Regions from separate parts of the Homo sapiens genome. Here regions 1, 2 and 4 are each linked to region 3. The links come from fine-mapping of genetic effects on gene expression. A gene starts in region 3. Each other region holds a variant in brackets. All regions are shown on one strand. Distances are from middle to middle.

Evidence for each region. PIP is the estimated chance that this variant, and not a neighbour inherited with it, causes the effect. A credible set is the group of variants that fine-mapping cannot tell apart.
Region 1: its variant is the best candidate, but not a certain one, in a credible set for the expression of GRK5 in whole blood (TOPMed, PIP 0.67).
Region 2: its variant is the best candidate, but not a certain one, in a credible set for the expression of GRK5 in whole blood (INTERVAL, PIP 0.69).
Region 4: its variant is the best candidate, but not a certain one, in a credible set for the expression of GRK5 in nasal epithelium (TOPMed, PIP 0.78).

The regions. Positions count from the first base shown.
Region 1 is chr10:119,134,585-119,139,731 of GRCh38, forward strand. It overlaps DENND10 (DENN domain containing 10), which reads left to right. Exons shown (of 9, transcript NM_207009.4): 9 at 1,887-3,400. The coding sequence ends at 2,063. Among named protein-coding and RNA genes, the nearest start is that of SFXN4, 29 kb to the right of the region's middle. The variant T/C (reference allele first, on the strand shown) is at 3,083.
Region 2 is chr10:119,275,547-119,280,693 of GRCh38, forward strand. The region is part of intron 1 of GRK5 (G protein-coupled receptor kinase 5); the gene reads left to right. Among named protein-coding and RNA genes, the nearest start is that of GRK5-AS1, 61 kb to the right of the region's middle. The variant C/T (reference allele first, on the strand shown) is at 2,894.
Region 3 is chr10:119,204,433-119,209,579 of GRCh38, forward strand. GRK5 (G protein-coupled receptor kinase 5) reads left to right here and starts at 3,139. Exons shown (of 16, transcript NM_005308.3): 1 at 3,139-3,537. The coding sequence starts at 3,486. GRK5-IT1 (GRK5 intronic transcript 1) reads left to right here and starts at 3,989. Exons shown (of 2, transcript NR_186528.1): 1 at 3,989-4,218. RefSeq lists enhancers at 1,646-1,725, 1,836-1,885, 1,906-2,015 and silencers at 2,356-3,185, 3,396-3,465, 3,516-3,565.
Region 4 is chr10:119,232,029-119,237,175 of GRCh38, forward strand. The region is part of intron 1 of GRK5 (G protein-coupled receptor kinase 5); the gene reads left to right. Among named protein-coding and RNA genes, the nearest start is that of GRK5-IT1, 26 kb to the left of the region's middle. RefSeq lists enhancers at 289-583, 3,546-3,605. The variant A/G (reference allele first, on the strand shown) is at 2,121.

The DNA of each region.
Region 1 (5,147 bases), 70 kb before region 3:
TCAAATGATCCACCTGCCTCGGCCTCCCAAAGTGCTGAGATTACAGGCGTGAGCCACCATGCCTGGCCAGAAGACATGATTTTAATGAGTGCTTTAGTGAGTCCTCAGCCACCCAAAAGGAATAAAGCCTGCGTGGCAGGTGCCGGGTTACTTATCCCAGGCAGAAGAGGACTTTTGGGAAGAGATTCCTTCAAAAAAACAATAGCAGCATTTCTCAAAAAGTTAAACATCAAGTTACCATATGATTTAGCAATGCTGTTTCTGGGTATATACCCAAAATAATTGAAAGCAGGGACTCGGCCAGGCCCGGTGGCTCATGCATGTAATCCCAGCACTTTGGGAGGCCGAGGCGGGCGGATCACCTGAGGTCAGGAGTTCAAGACCAGCCTGGCCAACATGGTGAAACCCATCTCTACTAAAAATACAAAAATTAGCCGGGTGTGGTGGTGGGCGCCTGTTAATCCCAGCGACTTGGGAAGCCGAGGCAGGAGAATCGCTTCAACCCGGGAGGCGGGGGTTGCAGCGAGCCGAGATTGTGCCATTGCACTCCAGCCTGGGCAACAAGAGCAAAACTGTCTCAAAAAAAAAAAAAAAAAAAAAAAAGAAAAAGAAAAGAAACGATACTGTAAAAATATAGCATTATCATCTTATGGGACTACCATTGTAAATGTGGTCCCTGGTTGACCAAAACGTCATTATGTGGTGCATGACTGTACTCGTATGGAAATATCCATAGCAGTGTTACTCACAGTAGCCAAAACGTGGCAGAAGCAACCCAGTGTCCTTCAGCAGATGAATGGGCAAGCAAAATGTAGTCTTTATATACAGTAGAATATTACTCAGCTTAAAAAGGAATGGAATGTTTTGAATGTGGCTTTTGTTGGGGGGGAGAAAAGGAATAGAATTCTGATACATGCTATAGCATGGATGAACCTTGAAACCATGCTAATGAAATAAGCCAGACACTAAAGGGTAAATGTTGTATGATTCCACTTATATGAGCTATCTAGAGCAGACAAATTCACAGAGTTAGACGGCAGAATAGAGGTTCCCAGGGGCTAAGCGAGGGGAAATGGGGTTATTGTGTAATGGGTAGAGTTTCTGTTTGTGATGGTGAAACGTGCTGGAAATAGTGGTGATGGTTGTGCAACGCTGCAAATGTACTTAATGCCACTGAATTATACACTCAGAAAATGACTAAAATTGTAAAAAAAAAAAAAAAAAAAAAAAAACCAAAACCACACACTATGATTTTTCTAAGTTAATTTTGTTTCATTTTTCCTAATTTTTTCTTTAAAAAGAATTATCAGGCCAGATGCAGTGGCTCAGATCTATAATCCCAGCAGTTTGGGAAGCCAAGGTGGGCAGATTGCTTGAGCCCAGGAGTTTGAGACCAGCCTGGGCAACATGGTGAAACCCCATCTCTACAAAAAGTATTTAAAAATTAGCTGGGTGTGGTGGCGCATGCCTGTAGTCCCAGCTACTCAGGAGGCTGAGGTGGGTAGATCACTTGAGCCTGGGAGGTCGAGGCTGCAGTGAGCCATGATTGAACCACTGCACTGCAACCTGGGTAACAGAGCGAGACCCTGTCTCGAAAACAACAACAAAAAAAGGAGTTATCTTTTTTGTTGTTCGTTTTTGAGACAGGGTTGCCCAGGCTGGAGTGCAGTGGTGCAATCATGGCTCACTGCATTCTCTAACTCCTGACTCAAGACATTCTCCTGCCACGGTCTCCCAAAGTGCTGGGATTACAGGCATGAGCCACCACGCCAAGCTCATTTTTCATAGTTTATAAACAGTCTGGAAAAAATAGGAAGAATTCTAGAGACTAAATATTCAAATTTCGGATACTAACATGTTGCATATATTTTCCTGTTCTATTAAAGGATATTGCTCTAAAAACAAGAGAAATCTTTACCAACCTAGCACCGTTTTCAGAAGTTTCGGCTGATGGAGAAAAGAGAGTCCTTAATTTGGAGGCGCTAAAGCAAAAACGATTTCCACCAGCAACAGAAAACTTCCTTTATCATCTAGCAGCAGCCGAACAAATGCTGAAAATCTGACTGTGTGACAGAACGTATCACTGATGACTGATAGAAAGCCCTCTTTCACTCTGATTACCCACTCACTACATGAAGTCCTGAAAATAACAGAGAAACTGTTATATCTTTTTAATGATTTATTTGCAAGTATTGAGATTTGACCTGAAAAACAATGAAACACATGAACACACTTCCGATTTTCTCCTCGCTGATTAGCTTCCTGCCTGCTGTCAGTGCTGGACGAAGTGCTATAACTACTTTATGTAACATTACAGAACAGCTAGAGGTCCTGGGGTAAGAGAAAAAAAGCACATCACAACAAATGTGAAAGCCTTCATTATTACACGTTCCAGTTTGTCTCGCTGTGTAGGCATAAGCTAATGGTTTATTTTCAGAAAGCTGCCTGAAACGTTGCTTTGTATTCTTCTAGGAAGAACTTTAATTCCTCCTGAGGAACTCTACTTTCTGAGCCAAACTGCTAATTTTCTGCGGAACTGTCTAGAAGATCATTCAAGAGACCCTGCAGTTGCACTTTCTCGTAAAAGTTAAAAAAAAAAAAAAAAAAAAAAGGTTTTTCCCGGCCTTTGAACATTTTGCCTATGAGAGTTTTGCATATATTTTATACTTGAGTAGACAACTTTAATAATCCATATTTATACTATCGCAGAAGTAAGCATTTGGCAAACGTTCAGCCATTAGCACTCATTTAACCCTGTTAGCAATATTCTTTTGAAAAAAGTGCCAGTCCTTATGTGATAAACTAAGAAGCCCATTGAATATAAAAGTGTGTAGGACTGAAACAGTGACCTTATATTATTGCTAAGGGAATATGAGATTAACTTCCTACAGGGGCCAAAACCAGAGAAAGGCTTCCAGCAACTTCGATGAAAGTAGTTTGGCCACATGTCAAGCCAATTGTTTGTACTATTTATGTACCTTTTTCATAACTGGAATTGCCAAATAAGCATGGAGATCTAAATGATGTACTTGTTAGTGTATTCATTCATATTGACTGTAAAGGATTATTTTTCACTCAGTAC[T/C]GATGTCCTTGGAAATCTTACCTGGAAACATGTTTGCAAAAAACATTATTGGGTCTTTCATCTTTTTCTTGGTATTACATATTTGTTCAATAAAAATTAAACACCCTCCCTTTTTTTTGAGTGAGGGCAGGGAGTACCTGAAATAAGACAATGTTTACTAAGGCAAATAATTGAAAATTAAATCTGCACTTTATGGAAATGAGGAATATTAACATCTTTTTTCTCATTTTTTTGTATTACTATATTAGCTAATGATCAAAGTTGTTAAAATTATAAATTTATGATGCAGAAATAAAATTGATATATTTTGATATTCAACTACTTTTAGGTGGGTGACGAATTGTCCCCTCTTTCTCTAATACTGCTCATTCCAAAGAAAATGGGGAAAAAATACCTTTTTTCAACTGTGAGGGCGCTAGGGAATTATTAAAAGACCTGTCTGAAAGTTCAAGACGGCCAAGGGCGCGGTGGCTCATGCCTGTAATGCCAGCACTTTGGGAGGCCGAGGTGGGCGGATCACCTGAGATCAGGAGTTTGAGACTAGCCTGGCCAACGTGGTAAAACCCCATCTCTACTAAAAGTACAAAAATTAGCTGGGTGTGGTGGCACATGCCCGTAATCCCAGCTACTTGCTATTTGGGAGGCTGAGGCAGGAGAATTGCTCGAACCAGGGAGGCGGAGGTTGCAGTGAGCCGAGACTGCACCATTGCACTCCAGCCTGGACAAAAGAGCGAGACTTGGTTTCAAAAAAAAAAAAAAAAAAAAGTTCAAGCCGTCCCCCACACACCCTTTCCTCCCGCCCTAGCCCTCCTCCACTCGCCTTCCTGGAGCTGCCTCTGTAACTTCAGTCTCCTGTCCTTGGAAGATGCCTTCACATTTCTGTCATCTGTTAGCGGTTAAACCTCCACCTGCAGCTGTTGCCCATCTTGTTCTCTAACTTTAATTTTGGTTAGTGTCAGCCTATGGTCAAACTGAGCCATTTACTGATTTTGTCCTTTTAGGCTGTTATGAAACTTTCCTCACCAAATTTGGAAATGAACCATCATACTGGCCTTGGGGAAACAAAACCACAGATAAATTCTTTGGTAATGTGGGGTAGGGTGTGTTGGAAGCATTAGTCCAGTACTCAAATGTTGAGGTACCTACTCTGTGCCATGCCTGTGTTGTATTTTGAACTACCCTGATGGGCAGCAGCTCCCGCTCTCGCGGTGCTGCGCACAGTCCGCTTGGGGAATAGGGTCAGCAAACAGGCTGCTGTAGTGTGGCTAGTGCTAGGCGTGATGTGTGAAACAGAGTGGTATTGGAGCACATAGATGGGGACCCAGTTCAGTGCTGTCAATCCTGGAAGGCCTCCCAGAGGGAGTGATCAATGTCAAAGTCAGGCCTGAAGCATTAAGTAGACATCTACTCAGACCAGAGGAAACAGCTGTGTGAAGGCCCTGAGAAGAGACCACAGCCCATGTGAGGACCTGGAGGGTCTACAGGGAGGGGAGGGAGTGGCAGGATACGAGTATGGGAAAGGCTTGCTGTGGTGAGGAAGGTGGGCTTGATCTTGACGCACTGGGAAGCCATTTAAGGCTTTTCAGGCCCGGTGCGGTGCTCAGGCCTGTAATCCCAGCACTTAAAGAGGCCAAGGTGGGTGGATCGCGGGGACAGGAGATGACAGCCTGGCCAACATGGTGAAACCCCATCTCTACTTAAAAAAAGCAAAACAAAAATTAGCTGGACGTGGTGGCTGGTACATGCCTGTAGTCCCAGCTACTCAGGAGGCTGAGGCACAAGAATCACTTGAACCCAGGAGGTGGAGGTTGCAGTGAGCCAAGATCGCGCCACTGCACTCTACACTCCAGCCTGGGTGACAGAGTGAGACTCCGTCTCAAAAGAAAAAAAAACAGTTGTTCAGCAGGTGTGGTTTAGAAGAGCAGGCTGGAACGTGGACCGGAGGGAGTAGGCAGGAGATGGGCCAGGCAGTGCCAGCAGGGGATGCTGTTGGACTGCGCTGGGTGGTAGCAGTGGGCATATGTGGGTTCCAGACTCCATGTACTGGGCCCTGTCTACTGCATAG
Region 2 (5,147 bases), 71 kb after region 3:
TCCAGTCTGAATTCTCTAAGGCATGCTTGTGCGTGTGCACGCTCTCTCTCTCTCTCTCTCTCTCTCGCACACACACACACACACACACACACACACACACAGAGTAATGGTTTTAAAGTCATGACATACTGTGCTTTTGGCTGCTGCTGTTTCTGACTGATGACCCCAATGAGACTCCAAAAAATTAGATGGGTGCGTTTGGAAGGCATTCAGAAATTACTCATTGGAAGAAAAATGCAGCGTTTGGAGGAAGGGGAGGGCTGAGCATGTGTAAAAATGAGTGTTATGCGCTTAGTGTTCCGAATTCAACATCAGTGAGGAAAGGGAGGGCCGCAGGAGTTTGGGGACCGTCTCGCTAAGCAATACTGCAAACACAGACAGTGACCCGATTTTCCATAGCTGTGCTAGCTCCTCAGGAGGTTTTGAGAATCCCCCTCATTTGGGTTTGAAGGAGGTCTCAGTGTCCTTCCTCCTCTGTTTGCCAGATTAAAGTTTCATACCTCAGAGCTGGGATACGCTGGGTTTTGATTGTAAAGGCATGCAGCTCAGACTCTGTTGTAAATGGTGAGTTTTTCTTTTTTTTATTACACTTTAAGTTTTAGGGTACATGTGCACAATGTGCAGGTTAGTTACATATGTATACATGTGCCATGCTGGTGTGCTGCACCCATTAACTCGTCATTTAGCATTAGATATATCTCCTAATGCTATCCCTCCCCCCTCCTCCCACCCCACAACAGTCCCCTTCCTGTGTCTATGTGTTCTCATTGTTCAATTCCCACCTATGAATGAGAACACGTGGTGTTTGGTTTTTTGTCCTTGCTATAGTTTACTGAGAATGATGATTTCCAATTTCATCCATGTCCCTACAAAGGACATGAACTCATCATTTTTTATGGCTGCATAGTGTTCCATGGTGTATATGTGCCACATTTTCTTAATCCAGTCTATCATTGTTGGACATTTGGGTTGGTTCCAAGTCTTTGCTATTGTGAATAGTGCCGCAATAAACATACGTGTGCATGTGTCTTTATAGCAGCATGATTTATAGTCTTTTGGGTATATACCCAGTAATGGGATGGCTGGGTCAAATGGTATTTCTAGTTCTAGATCCCTTAGGAATTGCCACACTGACGTTTTAAAAGTGAAATCAGAGAGTGTTTTTGGTTTTCTTGAAGCTGCCTTTGACATTTTAGCAACACAGCTGGGAGGGTAAGGTAGAAAACTCCAAGAAGTTGGAATTCAACTGTCAAAGTCAAAGCGGGGATGGACTTTTGGGAGTCCTGCCACAGCGGGACCTGAACTCAAGTCTTAACTTCTCCTCTAGGGCTCTTGTGTGAAAGAGGAATAGCTTCCTGCAGTTCACAAGGGTCGTACCATGATCAATTATTATTACGTTACACATCACTTCTGTACCAATTTATATTGGCACATGAAGTTAATATATCCCTATATCCATGCATTGCCTTTGTGATTTGGGAAAATCCGATGCCTTGGCCAAACCTCTGAATCATGTGACCACGTTTTAGCCTAATTTGGTGAACAAATCTTTAACCTCCATGTCTTCAAGTGCAGCATCAGTGGGTCATGGATCCAGAAGGTTGGCTGATTGGGATTCTCTTGCTGGGTGCTGCCGCACCTTGTGTGTCGGGTGCCGACACCTTGATCATTTCGGCCAGACCCCCAAGAGAGCCCACAGACCACCATGCTGGGTGGAGGCACCCAACACCTGGCTGACTGCGTGAACTTCTTGCTTCCCAGTGGCTCTCCAAACTAGTTGTGGAGGACGCGAAGGGGTTTCCTGATGTCAAAATAAAAATAACGATGTCTGTAGTTTCCCAGGAGGAATAATTGTTGATGTTGAGGCATGATCTCTGCATGCATTCTGTACCTGCTCCAGGGTGCCAGTGGAGGCTACACCCCTCTCCCCCTCTTCTGCTCTCTGCGACACCCCTGCCACAACAGACCTTGACTCTCCAGGCTGGGACCCAGGAATCCGTACTCTTTCAAAACCACTTTATTGAGTGTAATTGACAGACAGTAAGCCACACATATTTAAAGAATATGATTTGAGAAGTTAGGATATATCCATACCCGTGTGAATCTACATACCACAAACAAGTTATCCATCACTGCTGAAAGTTTACTCATGCCCCTTTATAATCCTGCCCTGTCATCCCTTCCTGTCCCCTGAACCCTAAGCAGCCACTGTTCTTGCTTTCTGTCGCTCTGGATTCGCTTGTATTTTCTGGATTTGCTTGTATTTTCTGGATTTGTCTATAGATGGAATCATATAGCAAGTACCCTTTCTCATGTGCCTTTACTTACTCAGCATGAAGATTTTGAGATTCATCTACACTGTTGGCGTATCAGTAGTTCATTCCTTTTTCTTATTGAGTAGTGACCCACTGTATCGATAGACCACAGTTTGTTTACCCACTCAACTGTTTGCGCAGGTGGGTTGTTTCTAGTCTCTCTATGGACAGAGATTTCCTTTTCTCTTGAGTAAATACTTAGGAACATCTGGATCATATGGTAGGTATAGGTTTAACTTTTCCAGAAATTGACAACCTGTTTTCCAAAGTGGTTATTCTTTGGGACAAGGAATCGTTGTTTTTAGATAAGCTTCCCCAATTCTCCTGTGGCCTCTCCCTTCCCGAGACGGTCTAATGGCCCTGAGCGATGGCTCCTATGTGCCCGTCTCCACCTGTTCTCTCAGGGCTAGCTTGGCCTTGGCACCTCACTGCAGGCCGCCCCTCTGCTTGGGGTGCTGGACAAGCAGAAGGGGAACACTCAAGTTCTTTCTCTCCATAACTGCCTTCGGGAAGCCATGGCAGATGCGTTGACTCTCTGTAGGGCTGGCAAGCTGTGTGGCGAGTCCCTTATCCAATGT[C/T]GCTGTGTCCCACAGGGAGGTCTTAAAGAGGCAGCCGACTTTTGTGGCCTCCTTGTGAAAGCTTCGATGCCTCAGGGATCATTTCTGAGCTGACTGCTAGTTGGACTTGGGCCCACTGAAGAGACAGCCTGGGATCGGATGTCCAGAAGAGACAGATCTGAGCACGTCTCTTTCCTCTCCCTCCTCTTTTCTTCTTAGCCCTTCCACCTATCACTCATTCATTGCCCCTTCCTAGGTTCTGTATTCATTTGCTGGGGGCTTTAACAATGAGACGTTATTTTCTCCCAGTCTGGAGGCTGGAAGTTCAAGGCCTAGGTGCCAGCAGGATTGGGGTCCCTGGAGCCCTCCCTCCTTGGCTAGGAGATGGCCGCCCCCTTGCTCTGAGCCCACATGGTCCTTCCTGTATGCACCTGCACCCCGGTGTCTTTCTGTGTCCTGACCTCTTCTTTTTTCTTCAAGACGGAGTCTCGCTCTGTTGCCCAGGCTGGAGTGCAGTGGTGCAGTCTTGGCTCACTGCAACCTCTCACTCCTGGGTTCAAGCAATTCTCCCACCTCTGTCTCCCGAGTAGCTGGGATTACAGGCGTGTGCCACCATGCCAAGCTAATTTTTTGTATTTTTTTTAGTAGAGACGGGGTTTCACCATGTTAGCCAGGATGGTCTCGATCTCCTGACCTCGTGATCCACCCGCCTTGGCCTCCCAAAGTGCTGGGATTACAGGCGTGAGCCACTGCGCCTGGCCCCTGACCTCTTTTATAAAGATATCAGTCACACTGGGCTGGGGCCCAGCCTAATGAATGGCCTCATTTTTGCATGATCTCCTCTTTAAAGGCCTTATCCTCAAATTTCTCCAAATACAGTCATGTTCTGAGGTGCTGGGGGTTAGAACTTCAACACAGGAATTTGGGGGCATACAATTCTGCTTATCACAGGTGCTGAGCCCTGAGTGCAGTGCTTATGATAGAAAGATGAGCTGGATAGTTCTTCCCCTTGTGCAGCTCAGCATCCTGGGGGAGAGAAAGTGGGAAGATCCAGTTTTCTGATGAAAGAAGATGGAAGGAGGAGGGCTCGGTGCTACTAGGGGGGTGGGAGTGGATGGTTAAGACCAACTTGACTCCAGTGACAGCAGCAAGGGCTCCTCATTCCTGTTGATGGTGTGTCCTTCAAAACGTGCCGTGGTTCTCAAGGAGTGAGTGGCGGTGGCCTGCAGCCCTCTGGCACTTTGTGGCCGAGGCCAGCTCCAACGCTGCAGGGCAAGAAGAGCCACGCTGCAGGGCAAGAAGAGCCACGCAGCAGCACTGATGTGCGTGCCAGTAACTGCCTGGTGTTCTAGTGAGTGCTCTCCCTCGAGGAGCCTACTCCATTCTCTAGGGGATCATGTGAAAAGTAGAGCAGCTTTGGGAAAGTGTGAAGTCTCTGTTGTGTCTCTGGAGAAGTTATCGCCTGGTTTGCACATGCTGGAGGGTGGGGTGGTGGTGGAGGAGGAGGGCGCATGATGCCTACAACCTGGCTACACTGGCTCTTTTCATCCTTGAATTCCTGCCTCAGGAACCCTACAAACCCAGTGCCCAGAGTATTGCACTGGGGCCAGAATGGGAAGAGCCCTGAATACAAGAGAACTGTGGTATTGGGGCTATACCTATAAGCATCAGGAAGTCCCCTGCTCTGTGCCCAGGGAGTTGGAGGCCTTAGTACCCTTATCTCTGGAGGCTTCTCCCTGGCCGTGCAGAACAGCTGCAGGAAAGGGGGAAAGCAACTTAACAAAAATTGGTCCAGGGACAAATTATGCTTAGTAATGGATTATCCCAAACATGCTTTGTCTGAGTGTCCTGAGGCCATGGTGACAAAAAGTTAGTGCCGTAACACACACGGAATCAATTCTCTGAGCCTGTGCACTGTCACACTTGTTGCCTCAAGCTCACAAATGGAGTTTTTCTTGTTGGTTTTAATACCTGCAGGAACGTGAATGTCGGCTCTCCAGCCAGCAAGGCCAGCGCCCACCCATCCATCCCTCTGCCATCCTCCATAGGTGGTTCTGATGGCTCTGGTCAGCTGTCATTCGTCCTCCCATCTCTCAGCCTTTGTAGGATAGTTGATACCTGTTTTATTCTTTTATTGTTATTTTAGGGGTCTCAGCATGGAAATATATTGGTGTATAAGTACCTGTTCCAGTCCTTGTTTTCACTTCTCTTGGGACTATACCTAGAATTGGAATTGCTAGATGCTATGGTAATTCCGTGTTTAATTTTTTGAGGC
Region 3 (5,147 bases):
TCAGGTGATCTGCCTGCCTTGGCCTCCCAAAGTGTTGGGATTACAGGCGTGAGCCACCGTGCCCGGCCTATAAAACCTTTCTTAACCTGGTGCTTTATCTATAAAATAGGCCTGTGTTCCCTACCTCATCTGGATATTGTGTTCAAGGAGATAATCCATTTAAAAGACCACAAGAGCCTGGCCCACAGTTGGTGTTGAGTAAATGCTAGCCATTATTGTTCCATTCTTGCATTGGAGTGTCTGAATTTCCTCATAGAGGCACAAAAACCTGATGTACAACCATGTATTTGTGTAGGCAGGATGCAACAGCTTGTAGTGGACAAAAAAATAGTCTAACACTAACTTGCTGAGTGACCATGCCAACTCACTTACTTTGGGTCTGTTTCACATCTGTAAAATGAGAGGGAGAGGCAGGGGTTCCCAGGATGGAAAACTTAAATGTCTATACAGGCCAGATAAATAAAATCACTAGTGACTTGGGCTGGGTATAAGACAATAGGGAGTTACGGTAAACTAGAAAGCTTTTCAACTCTGAGTGTGGTCTACTGACCACGAGGATCGACAGAGCCCTGGAGTTTGTTAGAAAGAGCAACATCTCAGAAACCACCCCAGATCTATCCAAATGCAATCTGCATTTTAACAAGATCCCCCGTGATTTGTATGCTCATGAAACTTTGAGCCAGGCATGGTGGCTTATGCCTGTAATTCCAGCACTTTGGGAGGCAGAGGCGGGTTGGATCACTTGAGTCCAGGAGTTCAAGACCAGCCTGGCCATTATGGCGAAACCCCGTCTCTACTCAAAATACAAAAATTAGCCAGTCATGGTGGCACACACCTGTAATCCCAGCTACTTGGGAGGCTGAAGTACAAGAATCATTTGAACCTGGGAGGCCGAGGTTGCAGTGAGCCGAGATTGGGCCACTGCACTCCAGCCTGGGTGACAGAGTAACTGTCTCAAAACAAAACAAAACAAAAAAACAAACAAAAACAACCTTTGAGAAAATTGTTTTTTTTTTTTTTTTTTTTTTTTGGTTCGGAGTCTCGCTCTGTCGCCCAGGCTGGAGTGCAGTGGCGCGATCTCGGCTCATTGCAACCTCCGTCTCCCGGGTTCACGCCATTCTCCTGCCTCAGCCTCCTGAATAGCTGGGACTACAGGAGCCCAACACCACGCCCGGCTATTTTTTTTTTGTATTTTTAGTAGAGACAGGGTTTCACTGTTAGCCAGGATGGTCTCGATCTCCTGACCTCGTGATCCTCCCGCCTCGGCCTCCCAAAGTGCTGGGATTACAGGCGTAAGCCACCGCGCCCGGCCCAAGAAAATTGTTAAGGTGCATAAGCCATCTAAAGGCATTCAAAAATTTTCTTTCTTTTTTTTTTTATGTTAGCCGAATAAACAAACTTCGGGCTTCATCAGGCCCTATGCTGCCAGCAAGTGACCAGCGTGGTTGGTGGAGGGCTCTAGGAGCTGCCAGCTTTAGGGGTCTCGCTGTCTGAGAGAGATCCTTTCATTAAAGGTTAGGGCTCTAGGCACGTGAATATGTAGCAAAGACCAAGCCTGGATTGCTTAGAACAGTAATTCCTGGAGTGGTAAGTGCCTGAAAAGTTACCCGCTGAGCCCTCCGCCTTCTGACAGGTAAACTGTTGTTGCCCCCATTTTGCAGACAAGATAAATGAGGCCCTGGGAGACTCACTGACCCAAGTCTAGACACCAGGAAGTGGTGGTGGTGGGTATACTCCCCCAGGAAAGCAGGTAATCTTGGGTTGTTACAATCAGTGACCAGACCAGTTTCCAAGGCCTGGAAGGTTTATTGATTTCTTTATATTCTCCAATGCATAATAACTGTTCTCTGTTTCTCTCGGCACCTCCCTGCGACTTCCTGGCAGCCCTGGGGACAGAGGGTTTCCTCCTTCTGGACAGAGAAGGCCCAGAGTCGGCTTCTGAACGGATATCCGGCCCGCAGGATGCAGAGGAGGCAAAGGCCTCATTGTTCTTTGGGGCCTGCCTGCCCCGCCCCCAGCTGTAGGACACTCGTGGCAGATCCCGGGTGACCGAAGACAGCCCATTTCCAGGAGTGGGGCCTTCGGAGCGGAGGGAGCAAGGAAACGGGGCTGAGCACAGACCTGGAGTCTGATGTTCTGAGCATAACACTGGAAGGAGCTAAGAGCCCCAAAATAAATAAGACCGGAATTTAAAAACGTTAATCCCACGCCGGCTTGGCGCTGGCCTGGCTGTTACTCATTAACGCTCCCCACGGCGGAGACTCCGGCGACTCCGTCTGCGTTTTTATTACTTAATCTGGCTGGGTTTGGCTGCAGGGAGGCTCGTGGATTTGCTGGCCGGGTGTGCTGGAAGGCAGTTTATTCACAGAATAAGCAGCTTCCCACGCTGGACCCTGAGCCCCAGGCGCCGTCCGCGTAGACCCCGCGCCGCGCACCGCGGCCGGCGGGGGGCGCTCGGGTCGCACCGAGAGCAGCGCGGGCAGCCAGCGCCGGGTCGCAGCCGACCCGCAGAGCCCTTCGCGCCCTCCGAGGAAACAAAGTGCATCTTTGTCCGCGGCCCGAGGCGCCGCGTGGGAGACGCTGGGCAGGGGCCAGGCCGGGCCGGCCGCCGCCGCGTGCGGGGACCCTGGGCGCGCGTCACTGACCCGGGACTCAGACCCTCGCGGGCCTGGCGCGGACCGGAGGAAGCGGGCTGTGGCGCGCGGCCGAGCTGGCAGCCCTCCCACTCCGAGCACGGCTCGGGACCCGCACTGGCTCCTGCCGGGCCGCGGCGCTTCACGCGCCGTCACCGGGGCCCGTGCACTCCGCTTTCCGGGCTGGCGACGGGGCGGGAAGGGGGCAAGCGGGAGCCTGCGGGGGGGTGCTGGGGACTTCGGCTTGGCTGGGCCGCCTTTGAGTCGCCTGTCGGCCGGGCGGTGCCCGCCTTCGCTTTCGGTGCCGTCCCGGGGCGGGTCCTCGCTCCGACAGCCGCGCGCCAGCCCAGCTCAGCCCCGGCGCCGCGCGGCCGGGAGGACTCCAGCTCCCAGCAGGCCCCGCGCCGCGAGCACCGAGGCAGGAGGCGCGCCTGGGCCGGCGCTTGCGCAGTGCGGCCGCCCGAGCCTGCTAGTACCACACCCCCGGGAGGGACTGAGGGGAGGCAGAAGCATCCGAGGCATTAAAGCATCCGAGGGAGCCGGAGGGGAGGAGAATGGAGTGACAGAGACACGCGGAGGGTGGGGGGTGGGGGGGAGCGTGTTGAGGGAGGGGGGAGGGGGGACACAGAGGGAGGAAGAAGCGGCGGCGGCGGCGGCGGCGGCGGCGGCTCCTCTTTGCAGAGGGGGAAACTCTTGGGCTGAGAGCAGGAATAATGCGGTAGGCAAGGCGGGCTGCTGGCTCCCCCGGCTCCGGCAGCAGCGGCGGCAGCCCGAGCAGCGGCAGCAGCAGCGGCAGCACCCCAGGCGCTGACAGCCCCGCCGGCCGGCTCCGTTGCTGACCGCCGACTGTCAATGGAGCTGGAAAACATCGTGGCCAACACGGTCTTGCTGAAAGCCAGGGAAGGTAAGAGGCAGGGCCGGTACGTGCCCGGCGCGTCCGCCGCGGGCCAGGGTGCGGGTGTCGGGTGGCGTGCGGGCTGGGGCTGCGCCCGTGCAGGATGCCCGCTGCCGGCGAGTGGGTCGCGAGCAGGACACTTCGGAGAGCGGCTCTGCAGACCCTTCAGGGTTCCTGCCTTGGGGCTCAGAGAATCTGGACTTGGGCTGAGAAGGTTGCAGGGATTTGGATGCTAACATATCTCCTAGTTTCCAGCGCTCGCCCTGCAGAGCGTGCCATCTCGGCAGCTGTTGAAAGGTCAGTTGGAAAAGCATTCATTCGGGGAGCGACGAGCAAACATGCACATAAAATAGCGTTTCAAGTCGGCCCGGGATGGTTCTGTGTGAACTGGTGTGTGTGTTCGAGGGGCGGGGGTGGAATGAGCAGAAGCCAAGTCTTTGCCTGCGCAGGCTGAGTTGATATAGACTATTGCTGGAAACCATCCGCTGGGATGTTTCTTAGGGAAATCCCGTCGTGTGGAAGGAAGCCTTTTAAAGGCAAAGTCAGATGTTGAGGAATTAGCCTTTTCATAGAATTATCAAAGGATGGCTGTACAGACCACCTAGAAAATAATTCAGTATTTCAGGTTTTTCTTTTCTGGGAGTGTGATAACTGAAATTGTTAGATTTTGGCTCAGTTAAGAAAAGAAAGGTAAGTGTGCTGGTGCTTTAGATACGTTTTCTATGCAAATCATTAGATTTCCTGCATTTAGCTGGCAGGAAATATTGTCTAAATGGAGTGTGTAAGATCCTGAGTCAAACCCTAAGAACGCATATTTTGACTCTTCCTTTTGATGAAAAACAGAAAAAAGGGGGGGGAGGCAGAAACTTGGGTGCTTCCTGAAATGATTGTGTTGTGTCCATGTAAACATATGTATTTAGGAATACCTGGAATTTATGTCGCATATTTTCCTTTTTTTTTTCTGGTCAAGATTTGAGCTCTAGTGTGCGACCTTTTTCATAAAAGGGGAAGAGGTTTTTCCCTTTCACGGGAGAACGCTTTATTTGATACAAGGTAGAAGGCAGACTGAGTAAGGGCTTGAGTTTAGAAGGATACTCGGTGAGCAGCCCATGAAAATGTCTTACCTGCTTAATATTTTCATTCACCTACTTTGATGAATGAAGGGAAGAATTTCTGGCCAGCAATAAAACGATTCGTGTTTATTCAGCCCGTTCCATCACCTTGTGGCTCCCTACACACTGTGGGGGTAGGTGATGCATAGCCTTCCGTGGGCAGCGTTTCAGCAACTCAACCCGGCATTCGTGTCTTACTTTCGTCGTCACTTGTCACTCTAAAGCAGCCAGTGGGCAAGAAGGTTTATTTCAGAAGCCCCGAAGGGAGGCAGTGCTTTGAAAACCCCAGCAGAGTTTAAAATATTCAGGTTAGTCTCCCTCCCATTGCTTAGCTTTGGTGGGAATAAATTTTTAGGAGAGGCTTGTTACTTGGTGACTTCAGGTTCTAAGGCCTGAGCTGTGTGTGTGTGTGTGGTTTTTTTTTTTTTTTTTTTTTTTTTTTCCTAACCTGACATTTTTAGTGGACAGGATCTAGGTGGGTGCTGGTAGGCTCTCCTCTGGGTTGGG
Region 4 (5,147 bases), 28 kb after region 3:
CCCATGTTTATTGCAGCACTATTCACAATAGCCAAGATAGTGGAATCAACTTAGATATCCAACAACAGATGAATGGATAAAGAAAATGTGGCATATATACACAACGGGAATCTATTCGGCCCTGAAGAATGAAGTCTTGCCATTCGCAGCAACATGGATGGAACTGGAGGGCATTATGCTAAGTGAAATAAACCAGGCACAGAAAGTTAAATGCTATGTGTTCTCACTTATACGTGGAAGCTAAAAAAAAGTTGATTCATAGAAGTAAAAAGTAGAACAGATAATACTAGAGGCTGGGAAGGGTAGGGGGAAGGGGATAGAGAAAGGTTTGTTTAACAACACAAAATTATAGCTAGATAGGAGGAAGAAACTCCTAGTGTTCTATATCTGTAGAATGACTGTAGTTAACACTAATATGTAGTTTCAAATAGCTAGAAGGAGGATATTGAATGTTCCTAACTGATATGGTTTGGCTGTGTTCCCACCCACATCTCATCTTGAATTCCCACGTGTTGTGGGAGGGGCCCGTGGGAGGTAATTGAATCATGGGGGGCAGGTCTTTTCCATGCTGTTCTCGTGATAGTAAGTCTCACAAGATCTGATGGTTATTATAAAGGGGAGTTTCCCTGCACAAGCTCTCTTTGCCTGCTGCCATCCATGTAAGACGTGACTTGCTCCTACTTGTCTCCCACCATGATTATGAGGCTTCCCCAGCCATGTGAAACTGAAAGTCCAATGAAACCTCTTTCTTTTGTAAATTGCCCAGTCCTGGGTATGTCTTTATCAGCAGTGTGAAAAGAGACTAATACACTAGCACAAATAAATGATAAACATTTGAGATGACAGATATGCTAATTACCCTGATCTGATCACTGTACATCATATGAATTGCAACATCACCATGTACCCCATAAATACGTAGTTATGTGTCAGCTAAAAGATAAAAAACTATAATATTTGCACCCAGGTGATGCTGCAGGGCAGTCAGGAGATGTGGCTGGCTCTGGGGAAAGGTGTCAGCTTGGTCTGGGCCTCCCTCAGTGGCCAAATGGCCAGTGTGAAGTCTTGGAGGGTGAAGGGCTCCTCCATGCCAGAGGCAAGCACCTGGCAGTAGCTTTGAAGAAATGTGGGAGCAGACGGTGTCTGTTGTTTTTCTGGCCCACATCTACCCCCTCTTCTTCTGGCAACAGCACCTCCATTTTTCTTGGGGGACCACTCCTCCCTGTATTTAATCCACAAGGTTGGGTGGAGATGATGTCTCATTGGTTCCATCAGTGAGCACATGACTCAGCCCTGGCTGTGCAGAGCCTTGATTCTCTGCTTGGCCTCAGGGATGGGGATGGGATTCTTGGTTCCAAAAGGGCTGCTCTTCTGCTGCTGGGGTTGCCAAGCTGGTGGAGGGAAACTTGGAGCTCTTGGTGGCCGTTGCCACAGCCTATCTGAGAATAAAGGCGGCATAGCACGATGTTGAATCAAAGGCTGATGGGGTGGGGGAGAGAGAGAGAGTCCTCATTGCATTGTTTCATTTTGGTGTCCAGCCATTCTGGGGGCCAGATGTACCCCCCTGGTTTCCTGTTTGGGTGAACGTGTGACTTGCCACTTACAGTCAAAGGATCCTGACTCATTCAGGGTTAAAAGTCACATCCTTAGGGGATACCTGCCTTAAAGAACCCAAGACAGCAGGCCAGAGACATGGGGCCTGGGTCAGGAGGAGCCAGCCCCCTGAGTCAAGGAAGGCTGGATGTGCACCTTTGTCCCAGGCTTTGCTTGAGCAGAGGGCCAGGTGTATTTGATATTTGCCACAAAGAATACAATCCTTAACCTGGCTGCCCTTGTGAGACTCCAACTGTAGCAAAGAAAGATTAGGAAACAAACATCCCAGTCACCATGGAAATGTGAACCCAAGGTGTTAGGAACAATAGCTGTGTGAGTCCGGAAGTGGATTCTGTCCACACACATGTTGGTTTGATCCCCCATCTATTTCCTTGTGGGGGCCTGGGCATATCTGTGAACGTATGATATAGCCAGCTGCTCTAGGGCTGGGTGCCACCTCCCATTAGCCTTGGTTTCATCATCACCAAAATAGCTGTAAACCTAATACACTGCTTATGCATGTCAGA[A/G]CCTCCTTACAGCCTCCCTCGGAGGTAAATATTATTTTTATCTTAATTCCACAGATGAGAAAACAGAAGCTCAGGGAGGTTCCTAAACTTTCCCAAGGTCACAGTTGTTGATGGAAGAGCCAGGGTTTGAACCCAGCCCGTTGAGTCTGTGCTTTTTTAACCACCACGTTCCTCACGTTGGTGTTGACAAAAAATATTACTAAAAGTAGTTCATTCTTACTCTACATGTCTTATTTCAATTCTGCCACAAACCTATGAGGCAAGTACAACTGGTTAATTCCATCTTATAAACGAGGAAGCTGAGGCACAGAAGACTTAGGAATCTTGCCCAAGTTCCACCGTCAGTAGGAGGCAAAAGTACATTTGGGGGTTACTTTTTTCAGGTGGATTTGAAATGATAATGTGTCTTAAATTTAATTTGGAAGCCAAGAATGGGTGATAACTGTAATTTTTTCTTTTCTTTTCTCCTTCCCCTCCCCTCCTTTTCTTTTCTATTCTTTTCTTTTCTCCCTCCCCTTTTTTCTTTTCTTTTCTTTCTTCTTTTCTTTTCTTATTATTTTTTGAGACAGAGTCTTGCTCTGTCACCCAGGCTGGAGTGCAGTGGCACGATCTCGGCTCACTGCAACCTCTGCCTCCTGGGTTCAAGTGATTGTCCTGCCTCAGCCTCCCGAATACCTGGGATTATAGGTGCACGCCTTGTATTTTTAGTAGAGACAGCATTTCACCATGTTAGCCAGGCTGGTCTCGAACTCCTGACCTCAGGTGATCAGCCTGCCTCGGCCTCCCAAAGTGCTGAGATTACAGACATGAGCTACCACGCCCGGCCTAATTAATTAATTTTTTTGAGATGGAGTCTCACTCTGTTGCCCAGGCTGGAGTGCAGTGACACCATCTCAGCTCACTGCAACCTCTGCCTTCCCAGGCTTGGGTGATCCTCCCACCTCAGCCTTCTGAGTAGCTGGGACTAGAGGTGCACACCACCAGGACTGGCTAATTTTTTTTTATTTTTTTTATTTTTGTAGAGACGGTTTCACCATGTTGCCCAGGCTGGGATAAGTGTAATTTCTAAATCTGGCTTTCATCAGTGGTGATGTTCTTCATGTGTAGATTTATACTAGGGAAACAAATCAGGAGGGGGAACAAGGTGGACAGAGAATAATAGCAACTTGATTTGCCTATTATCCCTGGAAAACCATATCCTGGAACTCACTAGCATGTAAGTAATTGGAAAATGTTAAAGCAAAAGAGCCAGGTTTAGAAACAAAATCACACCATCAAGTCTATGTAAATGAGTTCCTCGGTGAAGAGAAAAGCAAATGCACTGCTGTTTGTGGGCTGGCTGGCTGTGTCCCAAGTGCTGCAGAGTGGGAGTCTGGGACCAGTTGTTTTTTCATTGAGGGCCCCTTACAAGGCACACTCGGGTTGTTCAGACTCCATGAAGCTCATGAATTGGCTCAATAACAAAAAGCATGAATCATTTGAACGTGAAGGTACAGGGACATCTGTTTGAGTAATTTCTGACAGTTTTTTTTTCCTTTTTGAAAATGTGTTATATTTAGGATTTACTTGAGAAATAAGGTGGACTTGGGGACTGACAGCCCATCAGTTTCATGGGAACAGGGCCTGTGTCTTTTTATTGCTCTTTTTGTGTATGTCTGTAGACAATAGGTGCTCAATAAGTACTTTGTGTAAATGGTGACTTTAGGAGCACCTGGATTCTGCCCCAGGAGATTCCTGAGGGGCTGGCAGGTAACCAAAGGCTAATGGAGGTTTACAGCCAAGTTCCAGATGGTTCAGGGGCCCGAACCCCTGGGTGGAGCCTCTCTTGGGCCATATACCCATTCCCATGCCTGGCTGTCCCCCATCCCTTAGACCGTGGCTGCTGCTGCTGGACTGTGTTCTCTTGTGCAGATATTAACGGTGCCAAATAGTGCCAGGGCCCAGGTTGCAGTGGGCTCCTTATTGTCCTGTAATCTCAGCACTTTGGGAGGCCGAGGCAGGCTGATCACCTGAGGTCAGGAGTTCTTATTGTCTAGCCCAGAGGTTGCAAACTGACCTACACACTATTTTTTTTTTCTTTTTTTTGAGACGGAGTCTCGCTGTCTCTCCCAGGCTGGAGTGCAGTGGCGCGATCTCGGCTCACTGCAAGCTCCGCCTCCCGGGTTCACGCCATTCTCCTGCCTCAGCCTCCCGAGTAGCTGGGACTACAGGCGCCCGCACCTCACCTGGCTAATTTTTTGTGTTTTTAGTAGAGATGGGGTTTCACTGTGTTAGCCAGGATGGTCTCGATCTCCCGATCTCGTGATCCGCCCGCCTTGGCCTCCCAAAGTGCTGGGATTACAGGCGTGAGCCACTGCGCCTGGCCCCTACACACTATTTTAAAAATCGGGAAATTTCACGTAACCTTTCTGATTTAAGACTTCTTTTAGATAATTCAAAGTTTTGGCGACATTAGGTAAGAATTTTTGTGTAGCAGCATTTGTCTGCAGTTAATTTTTTTCTTTTTTTTGAGACGGAGTCTTGCTCTGTTGCTCAGGCTGGAGTACAGTGGCATGATCTTGGCTTACTGCAACCTCTGCCTCCCAGGTTCAAGCAATTCTCCTGCCTCAGCCTCACAAGTAGCTGGGCACACGCCACTGCACCTGACTAATTTTTGTATTTTTAGTAGAGCTGGGGTTTTGCCATGTTATCCAGGCTGGTCTCGAACTCCTGACCTCAGGTGATCCACCCACTTTGGCCTCCCAAAGTGCAGTTAAATATTGATTGTCTCTTTTGTGGCAAGATTCCAGTCTCTTCCTTTTACCACAGGCCACAATAGTTCCTCTTGTCTCATATCAAGTCCCCTTTACTCATTTATATCACCTGACCAGCCTCTGGTTTCAGGGCCTGTCTTCTGTAGTGTATTTGCCTTACCTTTTTTTTTTTTTTTTTTGAGACGGAGTCTCACTCTGTCACTCAGGTTGGAATGCAGCCGCGCGATCTTGGCTTACTGCAATCTCCGACTCCCAGGTTCAAGTGATTCTCGTG